Regions from separate parts of the Homo sapiens genome. Here regions 1 and 3 are each reported to be linked to region 2. Evidence: microRNA targets listed by miRTarBase, many of them from high-throughput screens and not tested one by one. Region 2 holds a microRNA gene; each other region holds the end of a gene's coding sequence.
Evidence for each region. Region 2 holds the annotated microRNA hsa-miR-548k (AAAAGUACUUGCGGAUUUUGCU, at 1,898-1,919, shown strand). A microRNA usually pairs through its seed, bases 2 to 8, with sites in the 3' UTR of a target mRNA and lowers its output. Matches are read on the target gene's strand: a 7mer-m8 pairs with bases 2 to 8, a 7mer-A1 pairs with bases 2 to 7 and ends in A, and an 8mer does both.

Region 1: the mRNA of BBS10 is a reported target of hsa-miR-548k. Seed matches in the 3' UTR shown: 7mer-A1 at 764-770.
Region 3: the mRNA of AKAP11 is a reported target of hsa-miR-548k. Seed matches in the 3' UTR shown: 8mer at 1,579-1,586 and 7mer-A1 at 3,863-3,869.

What each region holds. Positions count from the first base shown.
Region 1 is chr12:76,341,193-76,346,406 of GRCh38, reverse strand. It overlaps BBS10 (Bardet-Biedl syndrome 10), which reads left to right. Exons shown (of 2, transcript NM_024685.4): 2 at 1-1,933. The coding sequence ends at 594. Among named protein-coding and RNA genes, the nearest start is that of BBS10, 4.6 kb to the left of the region's middle.
Region 2 is chr11:70,282,089-70,287,618 of GRCh38, forward strand. It overlaps MIR548K (microRNA 548k), which reads left to right and starts at 1,867; the gene lies at 1,867-1,982. The region is part of intron 2 of PPFIA1 (PPFI scaffold protein A1); the gene reads left to right.
Region 3 is chr13:42,318,379-42,323,592 of GRCh38, forward strand. AKAP11 (A-kinase anchoring protein 11) reads left to right here. Exons shown (of 13, transcript NM_016248.4): 13 at 710-4,883. The coding sequence ends at 850. Among named protein-coding and RNA genes, the nearest start is that of AKAP11, 49 kb to the left of the region's middle.

The DNA.
Region 1 (5,214 bases), not on the chromosome of region 2:
TCTTTGGAAAGAAACAGGCTAACTGATTATTATGAACCATTACTCAAGAACAATTCCACTGCTTATTCAACAAGGGGAAATAGAATAGAAATTTCTTACGAAAATTTACAGGTCACAAATATTACTAGAAAGGGAAGCATGTTACCAGTGAGCTGTAAGTTACCGAATATGGGTACTTCCCAGAGTTACCTTTCCTCATCTATGCCAGCTGGTTGTGTTTTGCCAGTAGGTGGTAATTTTGAGATCTTGTTACATTACTATCTTCTCAATTATGCCAAAAAATGCCATCAATCAGAAGAAACCATGGTTAGTATGATAATAGCTAATGCACTTTTAGGCATTCCCAAAGTCCTTTATAAATCTAAAACAGGAAAGTACAGCTTTCCACATACATATATAAGAGCTGTCCATGCACTGCAAACCAATCAACCCTTGGTAAGCAGTCAGACAGGTTTGGAATCAGTAATGGGTAAATACCAGCTACTAACTTCAGTTCTTCAGTGTTTGACAAAAATATTAACCATTGACATGGTAATCACTGTTAAGAGACACCCTCAGAAAGTTCACAATCAAGATTCAGAAGATGAACTATAACATCAGAAGTTTTTAATTAACCAAACTTTTCATCTAACTCAAGCCAAGTAAAGCAGTCATGTGACCACTGGTTCTAAAGTCAGTTCAGTCTACTTAGGAAAATAGCGTAACTTTAAAAGTCTTTAGAAGAAGCACACTAAGGTCACCAGACCAGATACAAATATTAAATTACTTTATGGAACAAATCTAGAGGGGAAGCCAAGATTTGGCTAAGTGTGTCTGTTTTTTCCCTATTTTATGCCTCTGTGTCTCAGCTCTGTGTTAGCCTATGTGTTTAGGGGAGGGTTTTTCTTTATAGCTCCTTTTTACTCTCCTGTATCTTTTTCACTCCAGCCCTCCTTCATCGTTACATGTTTAGTTCATAGAATCATTTAATCTCTGATTTGGGTGGGCTTATTCTAATTGTTTTTAATATTGAATACATTATTTGCATTAATTTTCCCTACTCATACTTTGTAAAGCTGAGTAAAAGGCTCAAATTATTTTTTTCAAAAAGCATAAAATTAAATTAGCAGTGAGTAAAAGGCTCAAATTTTTTTTCAAAAAGCATAAAATTAATTTTTACTTTTATGTGGTCATTGGTTTACTGCCACTTCATTTGGAAAACTTGGATAGATTTTCACCTTTGATATACCTTTGAATATATGTTACCTGAAATATAACTGTGCATTGTTAACTCTTTCATTTCTGTAGTAAAAGGTTAATACTAGAAAGGATATGCAATTAATACTTTGATTTTCTCCTGACCCCAAGAGCTTGTAAGGATATGTCATGTATTTACTGGTTTTTCTTGTATCTGGTGCATAGCCAGAGTTCCACAGTAACAAATAATTTGACAATTTTTATTTCTAATGTTTATTTCTGTTTTATTTTTAATTTTTATTTCTAATTTATTTCATTTACAAATGTTCATATTTTAAAAACTTGTCAATGTAAATAATATGATGCATCTTATCATGGACAAGGACAGTGTTTTCTACCTTTATCAGTTCTCTGTAATACCCAAAACAGTGCTGTATTTACTCCAAGTATTCAGAAGTGCTTGTTGAACAAAACAGTGTTATCTTTAATTCATTCCTTTAAATACATGTTTCCAGTTTACTTATTCAACAGATTCTTACTTGGGATTGACTGAAGAAAAAAAACTTTAATTATAGTTGAATAAGTGTTGACTAATGTATTTTAAAAACTATAATATCAAAATTTTTTATATTAAATGTAATTCTGATTTTTTAAACATTTATGCTATATGATGCATTATTTTGTTTCTGTGAATATGGAGAGAATAAATTAGCTCTTTTGCTGAATTCATGGATGAATGAACTTTAAAACTGCTGCATAATTTTTTTCATTTTTTTTTTAATTGCCTTTCAGGTCATTTGGTCACTTTGCTTTTTTTGTGGTTGTTTAAAACACTCCTCCATTACTGTAAGCATTTAATGACTTCCAGACATGCCCAGTGCTTTGCATATGATAAGCATTTAATAGGTATAGTCACTAGTCCAGGAGCCCTGTTGAGGTAGGACTGGGTCTTTGTACGTTTGGCACTTGGTCTAATATCTTACACACAATAGATGCCTATTGAGGGCCTATTTGTTGAATGAATCTGTCATTTGGTCCTCATAGATGAGATTATAATTTCTATAAACTTTCATGGGCAAAGGATCTATTTTGGGGAGGAGCAGAAAGTGTAGAACAGATCTACACAAAGTAATCCTTTTCCTTTTCATTAAAAGAAACCCCTCAAAAATGGTGGTAAAACTTTCATGGATTTATCCTTATTTACAGAATAACACTAGAGAGTTTACATCACTGAGTTAGATAGGAAAGCACTTTTAAAAATGTAATTACATTATACTTATACCCTCTACCACAAAGGATGTGAAGTGACCTGCAATAAGAACAGACCATCCCCACCCAAGAAAAGGAACAGACAAAATTACAGTAAAATCTGAATGAAAATTAAAGAATCAAGACCAAGGAAAATGTAAAGGCCAGTTAAAATCAAAATCAAGATCATGTTTCTATTTTTTACTGCTGCATAATGAATAATCCCAAAACTTAGTTTTTTTGAATCATTATGTTATTTACTTGTGGTTCTGGGGGTTGACTGGGCTTAACTGGACAACTTTCACTGCATTCTGTTGTTTGAGCAGTCATAAGCATCACCTGAGGTTCAAAGGAGAAGAATGCAGGCCCCACCACTCAATGGGAACAGTGTCAGTGTCACATCATAAGAGCATGTGGGATGGGATATATTGAGGCAGCTATCTTTGGAAAATACAATCTGCTACACCATGGGAGGGAAAAGACAAATACGCATTAACTTCTCAACTGCGTTTCTTTTTATTATTAAGTTACATGTCGATCCACCTCCCACAAACACATTTTCTCCAATAACCTTTATAGACCTTCTTATTTTTTCTCATTGGGCCAGCATGAGCCATTTTTATTTTCAAAGCAATAGTTAAACTTGAACATCCTTGAGCTGATTCAGCCAGGGATGCTATTTAATCATGTTGTACAGGAATTGCCATGTTATCCACATTTCAGACTAAAAGGGAAGGGGAAGAAGAATGCAGTTTGAGCCTGAACTTTTATCAGAAATTGCCTCTCCTCTCCCAAAAGAAGTAGAATATGTCTTTCTCATCTTCACAGCTTAGCAGAGAAAACAAAAACTACAGCTCACAAACCATGTATATGTATGTATATATAGTTATTAATTGCAACTTTGTCATAGCAAAAGATTGCTAACAGCCTAAAAGCTAGATGGATTCACAAAGAGAGGCAATGATTTGGAGGGGTGGGGGAGGAGATACCAATCAATCAGGAGGAGGTAGGAAGATTTCTCAATGTCATTTTGATTTTTGAACCAATTGAATATTACCTATATAAAAATGAAATAAGATTTTAAAATAGATCTAGTGCAAGCACATAGAGAATACTCTCCAAATAGTAATTAAGTAATAAGGACCCTGATCTAAGGAAATGCAAGATCAGCATGGAAGAAAAACTGTGAGACACCCTGACAAATAAGTAGAACTTTGACAATAAAAGATATACACCTGAAAAAAAGGAATATTCTCTTAGCTACACCTGGCTTAGGATTGTCTCACCAGTTCTGGAAATATGAGAACATTCTCACTAGGCAGGCTGCAAAGAGGTGTGAGCTGTGAAAGAGTGCCAGCAAGCAGTGCTTCATTCTCGGGGGAATTTCCACAGTGCAGGGTCTGGCTCTCCCTTATGCAGACTCACCATCAGATTTTTGTGAGCACACTGATTATGGCTTTGTCTCAGGGGCTAACTCACGCTAAGCTTGTGAATGTGATAAATTTATTTACAGTGAGAACTCTCCCAGGAACTAGAATATTCCAAGTCCATTTGGCCAATCTTTCCTTTATGTGTGGATCTCTATGGGAAGTCAAACAATAATCAGGTGCTTGCTCAGTAAGCGTGGAATCAGAACAAGAGAAATCAAATGAAATATATGGTCCTCTTTCCAGTCCATTCATGCTCCGGTTCCCCATGGCATAGTCCTGGCCCTCCTCTACCTATACTTGCTTCCTAGGAGAGCCTATCCATCCATGGCTTGGGTGCCAATAGATGCTGATAATCCCAAATTATATATTTCCAGCCTAGACCTCTTTGAATTCTCAACTCATTTATCCACCTGCCAACCCAGTCTCCACTTGGATGCTCACCCTTAACGTGCCCAAAATAGAATTGCTATTTCCCATTTCCTAACCCTAGCCCTCCCACTGTCGCCCCATGTCAGTTAATGGTACCACCCACCTCCCACCTGCTCAGGACAAAAACCTAAGAAACACATTGACTTGTCTTCATGCTCCACAACCAATCTATCAGCAAATCCTGCTGGCTTCAAATACAAAACGGGTTTCAGATCCACCCGTTTCTCACCACTGCCACCGTTGCCACTCCAGCCCAAACCACTTCATCTCACCTGCACTAGCTCATAATGGTCTTATAGTTCTCTAGAGTGATTCACCCTGACTTTATTTAAAAATGTAAACCCACAAAAAAGTGAAAGAGTACAATGAAACCTTCATCTAGATTCACCAAGTAATCTAGATTTTAGCCCGTTTGTGCACACATTTTACTGAACCAATTGAAAGTAAGTTGTAGAAAGCATTATACTTTATCTTTCAATACCTCAGTATGTGTTTCCTATGAATAAGAAGTTTTCCCTACGTGACTGATTCTTTTGAAAGGCAAATCATGTCATGTTCCCCTGCTCAAAGTCCTCCAATGATTTTTCCTCATACAGAATGCAATCCAAATTTGTCATAGTCTACAAGGCTTAGCATGACCTGACCCCCACCTATTCCTTAGATCTCATAGTCTACCAGTCCCTCTATCTTACATTCCACCAGTTACACTTACTGTTTCTGTCTGGATAGGTTACACCATACTGAAATATCCCCAAATCTCACAGGCTTAAAACAATACAGTCAGGTATGGTGGTGTGTGCCGGTAGTCGCAGCTACTCAAGAGGCTGAAGCAGGAGGATCTCTTGAGCCCAGGAGTTTTGAGTCCAACCTAGGCAATAAAGCGAGAGCCCATTTCCAAACAAAACAAAACAAAAGCAACCACAATATAAAT
Region 2 (5,530 bases):
TCCCCCATTTGCCCCTGCCCAGTCACTTAACCACTTAAAGACAGTAGAGCAAGTGGCCTGCCCAGCGGGAGACACAGCCCTTGGCCTCCAATTCCCGTCTTGGCCACTGTGTGGGCTGTTCCACCCTGCTGTAGTCTCTACTCTTCCCCATGCCCTGTGTCAGACCGAGGGAGGGTTTGTGATGACATATCTGGCAGTGGCAAAGAAGGAGGCTAGGGAGGTAGGAGAGGTTGTGTGCGTGGTGTTTAGTCTTACTTTGGAGATGGGGTCTTGCTGTGTTGCCTAGGCTGATCTCCAACTCCAGGGCTCAAGCCATCCTTCTGCCTTGGCTTCCTGAGTAGCTACCACTACAGGCATGAACCAGTGTGCCCAGCTACCTAATGTTTATTCTATGACTTGATCCCATGTATGTTTCCTTTTTGAGTGCTGATTTTTTTTTTTTTTTTTTTTTTTTTTTTGAGATGGAGTCTTGCTCTGTCACCCAGGCTGGAGTGCAGTGGCGTGATCTCGGCTCACTGCAAGCTCCACCCCCTGGGTTCACACCATTCTTCTGCCTCAGCCTCCCCAGTAGCTGGGACTACAGGTGCCCGCCACTACATCCAGCTAGTTTTTGTTTTGTATTTTTAGTAGAGACAGGGTTTCACCATGTTAGCCAGAATGGTCGCGATCTCCTGACCTCATGATCCACTGCATGCCTTGGCCTCCCAAAGTGCTGGGATTACAGGCGTGAGCCACCGTGCCTGGCTTTTTTTTTTTTTTTTTTTTTTTAAGAAGGAATTTTGCTCTTGTCGCCCAGGCTGGAGTGCAATGGTGCGATCTCAGCTCACTGCAACCTCCATGTCCCAGGTTCAAGCGATTCTCTTGCCTCAGCCTCCTGAGTAGCTGGGACCATAGGCGTGCATCACCATGCCCGGCTGATTTTTGTATTTTTAGTAGAGACGGGGTTTCACCATGTTGGTCAGGCTAGTCTTGAACTTCTGACCTCAGGTGATCTGCCCGCCTCAGCCTCCCACAGTGCTGGGATTACAGGCATGAGCCATCATGCCTGACCGACTGACCGAGTGCTTTTTTTTTTTTTTAAAGCAAATATTGCCTTTGGGCTTCTCTCTAATTTCATTTTAAAGTTTCAGTTGCATTTTCAAATGGAGATTTTATTTTAAACTGGAGTGCAGTGATTTTTACAGTCTTTTTGAAAGCAACAAATGAGATTTTTAGAAGACCTCTTGCTTGAAGAACTCTTTTGTGTGAAACCTAGAAGAGAGACTGTTCACCTTTCATTGCAGGTGAGGTCCCAAATTTTGCCAGTCTCTCTCCCAATCTGCCAATCCCTGAAGCAGGGGGTACAAAACTCAGAAGATTCTAAGGAATGAGGTCTTCAAATCAAATCCAAACTTAGTGAAAAAGAAGTCTACCTGTGTCAGGGGTGTTCCCTGTCAAAGTGATGGGTGAGCTTCAGCTGGTTGCAGTGGAAGGTGTGCTGGATGGATTGAGGAGGCGAGAGGGTGCAAGACAGCCCATTTAGGAGGCAGTTCCTGCAATGTGGGCATGAAGTGTTACAGCCCAAACTAGGATGCTAGAATCCGAGGGCAGAGGGCAGTAGAAAAGAACAACCTGGCGGAATTGTGTAGGACTAGAGGATGACAGCCGAGTGGCAGATACCAGGGTCAAGCTTGCGGGGAGAAGGGGGACGGGGGTGGGGGAGAGTAAAGAGGAGACGCTGGTGTTTGGTGGTGTTGAGAGGTATTTGTGGTTGTCACAGCTAGGGCAGGGATGCTCCTAAACATTCTGCAGTGGAGCCCCCTCAACAAAGAATTATCTGGCCCCAAATGTTGGAAGTGTCCAGGTTTAGGTATAAAGAATCAGAAGCTTTTCTCAAGTATTGCTGTTAGGTTGGTGCAAAAGTACTTGCGGATTTTGCTTTACTTTTAATGGCAAAAACCGCAATTATTTTTGCTTCAACCTAATATGATGCAAAATTGGCTACAACTGTAATTTGTTGAGTGCTGCAAACAAGGTACTTGCTAAGCTTAACTTTAGTGAACAAATTAGGAAGAATTGGAATAAGGTAAAACTAGCTAAATGACTCTTCCCTGAGAATAAATACTAATGACTGCCCCTTCAGATGGTGCCCCCTCATCTGCTTTACTGACTGTTTCTTAGTAGTAGTTGGCAAAACACCTCTTAAAATACCATACTTGTTTTCATCGTCTTTGGTGTATGAAATAGTTGAATATATCCTTTCAGAATAATATTTGGCCATTTACATCTCTCTTTTGCACACACTGAATTTGCCATCTTGTCTTCCTGTTCCTACACCTTTAATTGTCAGCAAGGAGACAGAGTCCTTCCTCCTATTTTGTTGAGCCCTGTGTGAATATTACCGTTCTAGGCTCCTGCAGTCAGTGGTAGAGACAGGGTCTCTGCCTGCAGAAGACTTTCACAATATACCCATGCTCAAAGCAGGTGCAGGTTGCGAGACACATCCAGATAGAATGAAGTGGTTCAGAAGAAATCCATGATCTCGACTGAGTGGGGTGGGCTGCCAGGCACACTGTGGTCCAGAAAGGTGAGGCTTTCGAGGGGATTGGCTTAGAGCTGAGGGATGAAGGCTAAGAGGAACCAGGTATGAGAGCTTTCTTGGCGGTGGGGCTACTTGAGCAAAGGCCAGAGCAAGGGAGAGCTTAGCATTTAGCTGAGTCAAAGCTGGGGTCTGTGGCCATGGTTACTTGGCCTGGAGGGAAGGGAAGAGTGAACATGGTAAGGTTGGCTAGGTAGGTTGGGATGGGATCAGACAGAGGTGAAGACTTGCTTGTTTTTGTTTTAAGTACCTTAGGGCTTCAGTACTTTGCGTGCATCGTGGCCTCAGGGGAGGGAATGATGTGATTTAGCTGCGTTGTTATTTATTTATTTTTATTTATTTATGTATTTCTTTATTTAAGATGGAGTCTTACACTGTTGCCCAAGCTGTAGTGCACTGGCATGATCTCGGCTCACTGCAACCTCTGCCTCACAGGTTCAAGCGATTCTCCTGCCTCAGCCTCCCAAGTAGCTGGGATTACAGGCGCCCGCCACCGTGCCCGGCTAATCTTTAGTAGAGACGGGAGTTTCACCACGTTGCCCAGGCTGGTCTTGAACTCCTGACCTCAGGTGATCCTCCCTCCTTGGCCTCCCAAGTTTTTAAAAGATCATGCTATGTGGATAATGAGCTGGGGATGGAGGGAAGAATGGACCTAGGGTGGAAACCACTGGTTAGAGTAGAGCCACTTCAAGTGCATGGGTTTGGGCTATAAAGTTAGTGCTGTGAGCAAAAATTAAAAACTCTTGCCGGGTGCGGTGGCTCATGCCTGTAATGGGAGGCCGAGATGGGCAGATCACGAGGTCAGGAGTTCGAGACCAGCCTGGCCAACATGGTGAAACCCTGTCTCTACTAAAAATACAAAAATTAGCTGGGCGTGGTGGTGCGCAGCTGTAATCCCAGCTACTCGGGAGTCTGAGGCAGGAGAATCGCTTGAACCTGGGAGGTGGAGGTTGCAATGAGCTGTGATCGCACCACTGCACTCCAGCCTGGGGGACAGAGTGAGACTCTGTCTCAAAAAAAAAAAAAAAACCTCTTAACATCACCCATCACATAAGGCACAGAACAATGTGTACTTTTTAATTATCATATACATAAATGCATACTGTTTTCATGCAGTATACATAATGTTTATGTATATAGTGTATACATGAATGTATTCAGGTATTTTGAGTGTCTGTATGTGGCATGCACCGTTCTAGGTGCTGAATATTCCATAGGTAAAAAGGGTTATTTAGCCCACATTTTTTTCGTTGTATGAAGAGAAATGGAAAAAACCAAACTTACATAGTTCGGTTTGAGCAAGTTAAATGCATGGATGATGTAATGTGGGAGCACTTTCCACTTTTCGTTGATGTTTGTGTAGGCAGAACTAGGGAGGTGGTTTTCCTTGGGAGTTTCAGCTGCCCACTGTACTCCTCCACTCTTGGCCACTGTGCCTCGCAGGTGCCTTACCTGACTGCCATGCTGTGTACTTTCATTTGGGCAGGCTTTGGGCTCCTTAAATTCAATATTGGCTCAAACCATCTTTCCCCCGCATCCGTACCCCATCCTGTGAACGGTAGTTTTCTACGTAGTCAGGTGGCTATGTCTCTTCTTTTCTTTTGAGATGGAGTCTCGTCCTGTTGCCCAGGCTGGAGTACAAGGGCACAATCTCAGCTCGCTGCAATCTCTGCCTCCCGGGTTCAAGCGATTCTCCTCCCTCAGCGTCCCAAGTAGCTGGGACTACAGGCACATGCCACCGCGCCCTGCTAATTTTTGTATTTTTGTAGAGACGGGGTTTCACCATGTTGGCCAGGCTGGTCTTGAACTCCTGACCTCTGATGATCTGCCCTTCTTGGCCTCCCAAAGTGCTGGGATTACAGGCGTGAGCCACTGCTCCCGGCCCTATCTCTTTTCTGCGCTAACCTTATCCTTCTAGTCTCCAGGACCTGTGGGATGGACCTTTCCATCTCTTGGAGGTTACCCCTGAGGCCCACTGACTCTCAGACCCGAACCCTTTGTCTTCACCGGGTTGACTCCCATGGCCCCTGTTCTGGAGCCTCTCTGCAGTATCTTATCCCTTTTTGCAGCAAGATCTTTCTTTCTTTCTTTTTTTTTTTTTTTTTTTTTGAGACAGGGTCTCACTTTATCACCCAGGTGGAGTGCAGTGGTGTGATCGGGCTCAAGCAATGCTCCTACCTCAGCCTTCTAAGAAGCTGGGACTACAGGTGTGCGCCACTATGGTTGGCTAATGTTTTTTCTGTGTGTGTATACACACATATATATACACATATATATACACATATACTATATATATACATATACACATATATGCACATACACACACACACACACACACACATACATATATGTAATTATTATTATTTTGTAGAGCAGGGGTCTTGCTATGTTGTCTAGGCTGGTCTCGAACTCTTGAGCTCAAGTGATTCGCCCACCTCAGCCTCCCAGAGTGCTGGGATTACAGGCGTGAGCCACCACGCCGGGCCAAGATCTTTCTAAAATGCATGTACAGCTGCCTTTCCTTTGCTCAGAACACTTGAGCTCTCCATTCCTCCTCGGGCTGAAGACTCCTGTGTCATCACATCCTGGCCCAGCGCCTCCCTGCTCTCCCAGTTGTGGATAGTTCCTCACTTGCAGACTCCTTTTTTTTGTACAACTTTGTAAATAAGCCGTTGTCTGAGATTAGGCCTTTCTTATCTTCTACTTGCCAACTTCATTCTAGCTACAACCAAGTAATTTGGTGCAGCTCTTTCAGCGATCCGGTTTTGCCCTGTGTATACTGATTCTCAAAAATGCCCATATTCTGATGCAGTGGTTTGACTTCAGCTAAGTTTTTTTTTTTTTAGTAGATACAGGAGTCTTTATGTTACCCAGGCTGGTCTCCAATCCTGGTCTCAAGTAATCCTCCTGCCTCAGCCTCCCAAAGTGTTGAGATTACAGGCATCAGCCACT
Region 3 (5,214 bases), not on the chromosome of region 2:
ATCTCAATAAAGCTGTTTTTAAAAAGGTTAAGCATATATATGTTACACAAAATTAAAGTAGTTTTTCAGAATTTAACTTACAGATCTTTCAAAACTTAAGAGCTTTTACAGAACTTAGTAGAAAAAGAAATGAACAAAAGCATGTCGTGAGTGGTGACAACAGGATTTATTTAAACCTGTATTTATTTATTTATTTATTTGTTGTTTTGTTGTTGAAACATTAACATTCTTTAACTTAGAAAGCCATGTTTCCATTGAGGCTAGAGTGTGTATTCCAGAAAAATGCCACACTATATGTTGTGGAAGGAAAATCCACATCCTTTTATTGAGTTTGACGTTGTCTTTATTATTTTATGTCCTAATTGAGGGTGTGGCAGTTGTATTTAGTTAGGTGAAGAATTTCCTGTAGAAACTCAGCCTCTGCATGTCCATGCAGACTATTTGCTTGGTGAGGTTTGTGGAGCTCTGTCTCCAGCGATCCCAAAGTGTCATTCTCTGGAGGAGATGTGTTTATAAAGGGGAAGAAGGGAAAATGTTTAATTTGGGTAAAGGGGTAGCGGTTTAGAGGGGAAGACCTTGTTATAACTAGGAAACGGTATTTAATTGTAAACAGCAGGATTCTTAAGTTTCAGCTAATATTGAAAATAAAAATAAAAGCTTTGTTATAAAATTGTTTTTGGTTAATGTTTGACACATCTTTCTTTCTTAGCTTTCAAAACAATTACAAGAGAAAGGATGGAAAGTGGGAGACCTCCTGCAGGCTGTGCTTCAATACTATGAAGTGATGGAAAAAGCTTCCAGTGAGGAGAGATGCAAGTCGCTGTTTGATTGGCTCTTGGAAAATGCATAGAGCAAACCCCAAACCAGTATATTTTAGTATTTGTTTGGGGAGGGGAACAAGCCAATAAAGATGTTTAGGATAAAATTTGAATAGTGAATATTAACATCGTAAGTCAGTTGGGAGGCAAGTAAATATAGCTTTCTGAGCGCTTTGTGTTATCACTCGGTGTATATAGTTCATACTTTTGTAATCTGTCAAAATACTACCTTCATTTATTCTTCTATACACATGTGTAGTGTGTCAAGACCCTAAGAACATGTATTTGAAGGAAGGTCTAACCAGGGGGTTTTCAGGGGCATTGTCTGACCACATTCTTTTTGTATCCAAATAGTGCTGCTAGAAACTGCACTGAAGTGGCTGAGGATAGGTTCCAGTGATAGAGTTATAATTTTGCTCCTTTGCAAACAAATGGTATCTAATTAATAACTAGTCTGACATCAGAAAATAAAATTGAGGCTGATTTTTAAAAATTTCTAGTAGATTTTTGGCCTTTCCTGTTTTTAAAAATCAGTTTCATTTTCATATTTCATAGATCAGCTATTGGTAGCTTTTTGATTTCCCCAAACTATTTAATTTCTTAGCAGAAACATTAGTATTTTAGGTTTCTATAAACACTATAAGTGATAGTTTCCCCCATCCTTTCATTGACATTATTTGCCAATGCTGCCAGTCATTCTGGCATGAAAGGTGTGTGTGTGTGTGTGTGTGTGTGTGTGTGTGTGTGTGTGTGTAAGGGAGTACTTTAACCTTGCCAGTTTGTTCCCTCTTTTATTTTACTGTTTTCTTTTTAGAAACCCACTGTTAAAATTTAAAAAGGTGCTTTAAAATAAAACGCCTATAAAGATTGTGCAGTAAGAATTTTTATTGACAATAATTAAAATTTTTTTTGACAATTTTGGGTTCCCAACTTATCTTACAAGTGAAAACTTAAATTGTAAAACATGTTGAAATTTTAAAAATTAATGTTAATATGGAAATGCATTTAGAGAAGCCCAGTAGTTTTTATTGTTGGATTTTTGAAAAAACCTCTACCAAGAATGTGGTGTTTTTTTTGTTTGTTTGTTTGTTTGTTTTAGAAAAATTGGGATTTCCCCCCACCCCGCCCCACCCAGATAAACTATATCTACACTGTCTCGTCAAGTTCTCTGACACGATCTTTCTGGGCTCTACATTTCCTACTAGTTTGTGTCCAGAAACTGCAAGTTGACATGAATAGAGGACAAAGGTTGTGTCTTGCTTTTGTCTCTCTCTTCCCTCCCTGCAACTCTCTCTCCCCTCCTCCCACTCTCTTCCCCCTCCCCCCTCCTCCCACTGTCTCTCACCTCCCCCACCCCCCACTCTCTCTCATCTCTCGCTGTGTCCTGTGTATGTGTGGGTGTGTGTGTATTTGGGTGTGTAAATGTTGGTTCTTCCACTACTGGATTTTGTAATCTAGGATAAATCACTTTTTTTGGGGACTTTGATTTTGCTCCATTACGTTTTCATTTTTTCTGAGCACTGACTGTTCTGAAAGCTGCACAAAACGTAGAAAGAAGACATAGCGCCTGCCAGGGAATAGGAAATGAGGGCACTTACACATTAATGTGAATTAGTAATTGTGGTATAGAAATGTTTTATAGTGAAAGATTCAAATTTGCTTTTCAAGAAAAATGCCAAAAGCTATTTAAATAATTCGAGGTTACATCGTAGGTTTTGATTTTTCTCAATTTAAGATACAGAAATACAGCAAGCCTTAATATAAAGTTTCCTAAAGTTTCTTCAAGTATTTTTTAAGGTGGAGAAATGCAGGAATTGTATAACCAGAATTGTTCCTGCCTTTAGCTTTTCAGAACTTGAGATGTGGCAGCACTGGACTGGGTTTTTTTAAATGTTAGGACTAGGAATGTTTGCTCTTGTTAATTATGAATTAATTGATTATTAAGTTTAGAATGCATTTTTACAAGTATCTAACTATCAAATTGTGTTTAGTAACTTGAGTGTATGCACAAGTTTGATCAACAGCAAAATAGAGTTCTGAATTTCTTTTAAAGTGATGATATATTATTTTGTGAAACTTTGTGTTTGAAAATGTTTATTTCTGTTTATGGTGTAATCATTCTGAGGTGAGGCTTTTCTTATTTCCTTTGCATTTTGCTAGAGCTGTGCTGAGTTCAGCATTTGCTTATTTAACCACTACATAATGACAGACCAGTTATTAGGTATTAGCATGTGTGGTAATAATAATAGTGGAACTTCACACTTACATCAATTCAGTGCAGGGGCATAGAATAAAATATTAAATATTGGCAGATGTATGAAAAGAAGTGTGAGTTAAAAATATTGAATATTGGCAGGTGTGAAAACAAGTGTCAAAATTCCTCATATAGAGAAAATAATTTTGAGTTTAGAGTATTATCTTTTAATTAAGTGTAGTCTAAACTTAACTTTCTGTAAAGGCACTTTGTGGTTTTTCCAAAGATGTTCTAGATCTATTTGGTTGCTCTATAGTCAAACAGCTCTTTTGAAGACAACTGTCTTATTTTATTACAAATTGGCTTGACATATTTATACTGTAACATTGTAATATTGCTGTGCTGTACATTTTGGCCCTTACGAAATACGTCTTTTTCAGAACTGTTAAAGTTTTGATGTACATCGAGCTGAATTCTGTTTTTACCAGTTTCAAAACCTTCAAGTGATATGTGGAAAAAAGTGAATGAGACCTCTGATAGGGGGTTTTCAGAACCTTGTTCACACCAAAATGTGACAGTTCTTTCATGTTTTCCTAAACCAAGTTAAAATTACATGTATATTTTGGTGTTAAGGTTGATTTTTAAGATACTTCTGATTTGTACAAAAGGAATGTTTCCTTTATAAATCACAGAAGAAAATGACAATATCTGTTGGATATTTGATATAATTTAATGGTGTTATAAAACCTTTAAGAGGATTCATGGTGAATATATGTGATAACATCTTTATACTTTGAAAAATGTTCCACTTACCCTTCAGATATTTGTTGTAAGTTAATTCAATTCTTAATACTTTAATTTTGCTCCAACAAGGGCTTTATGTTGCTGGTAAGAGAATTTATTTACTAAATGCACTATGTATAAAGTGAAAGATAGTTTACTTATCTGACTTTGATATTAGATGGCTGACATTAGTGCACATAATGCAGAGTTTAACCTTGATTCTTCAACAGAGTCCAGATTTAAATGTCTACTTAGTTAATTAGTTAGCTGATATTCTTCCACAATTAATATATTCAATTTCCCATCAGTATATCACTTTAAATTTTATGTTTTTCTAAGGAAACTTTCCACAGAATTTTAAACAACTGATGCATCCATACTCAGGGTGTAGGGAGAATACTTTGCATTTAAAAACCCTGTCCACCTGTCACCAGCACAAGAGAATTAGAGCTTCAGTGAGAATTTAGAAAAATTATACTAAAGTGAGATGCATTTTTTCTCATTTTCAGCAAGACTCCTCTAAGCATTTACTCATTTACTGTATTCCTGCTCTGAAGATGTGGATACAGAATTAGTCACTCTTGTCACTTTATTTATTTATTGGTTTTTTTTTAACCATCTGTGTACATTCCTTTCATAGGGTAGAGTTCTAGTTCTAGAAGTTCTTATTTTGTTTTTGTTGTAATGTTTGAATACTATTTAATATCCGGTTTTAATATTGCTGGATTTGCTACCTTTGGTTACTTGTGCAGTGTTAAAAGTAATCCACTTTCTTGTTTAATATACCAGATACATAGCAAAAGCAGCTTGGAATAATTATAGCTGTTTATTTGGCTGTGCTCAGTTACTATATTAAGATCTTGTACTGTGTAACAGTAACTCTTTTTTGCTTTTCAGTAATTTAATATGTTCACTTAACAAAATACGAACTTTGAGATGCACTAAAGTTTTGTTTCAGCAGTGGCTCAAAAAATTTCAGAAATTACTTTTGTAATTATTTGCAATTAATTGTTCTTTTATCTTACAATTGTTTAAGCCTGTGATCTTTCTTCTCCCAGCTAAGAGTTCTTCAATAAATTTAAGAAATACCTGGTCTTGGTTTTCATTCTATAATATCTCATTAACTGCTCTGTACTGAGTGGGACTGCTATGACAGAAGACCACATAAGAGGACTGAAGTGCTAGATCATGGTTTTGAGAACAAGAGAAGTTAGAAATATTTCCAATTGGACACTAGATTCTACCTACTTATAGATACCCCAAATGCAGACATAGTGACTTAAAAGGCTGGTTGCCCAACCTGTTTTTGCAAAGTAGAATATTATGGTTGCCTTGAATATGAACATGGCTATGAAATTCTTCTGGCCTGGTTTGAACACTCTTTCCATAATAAGACCATACCTCTGTTAAACCATGTAC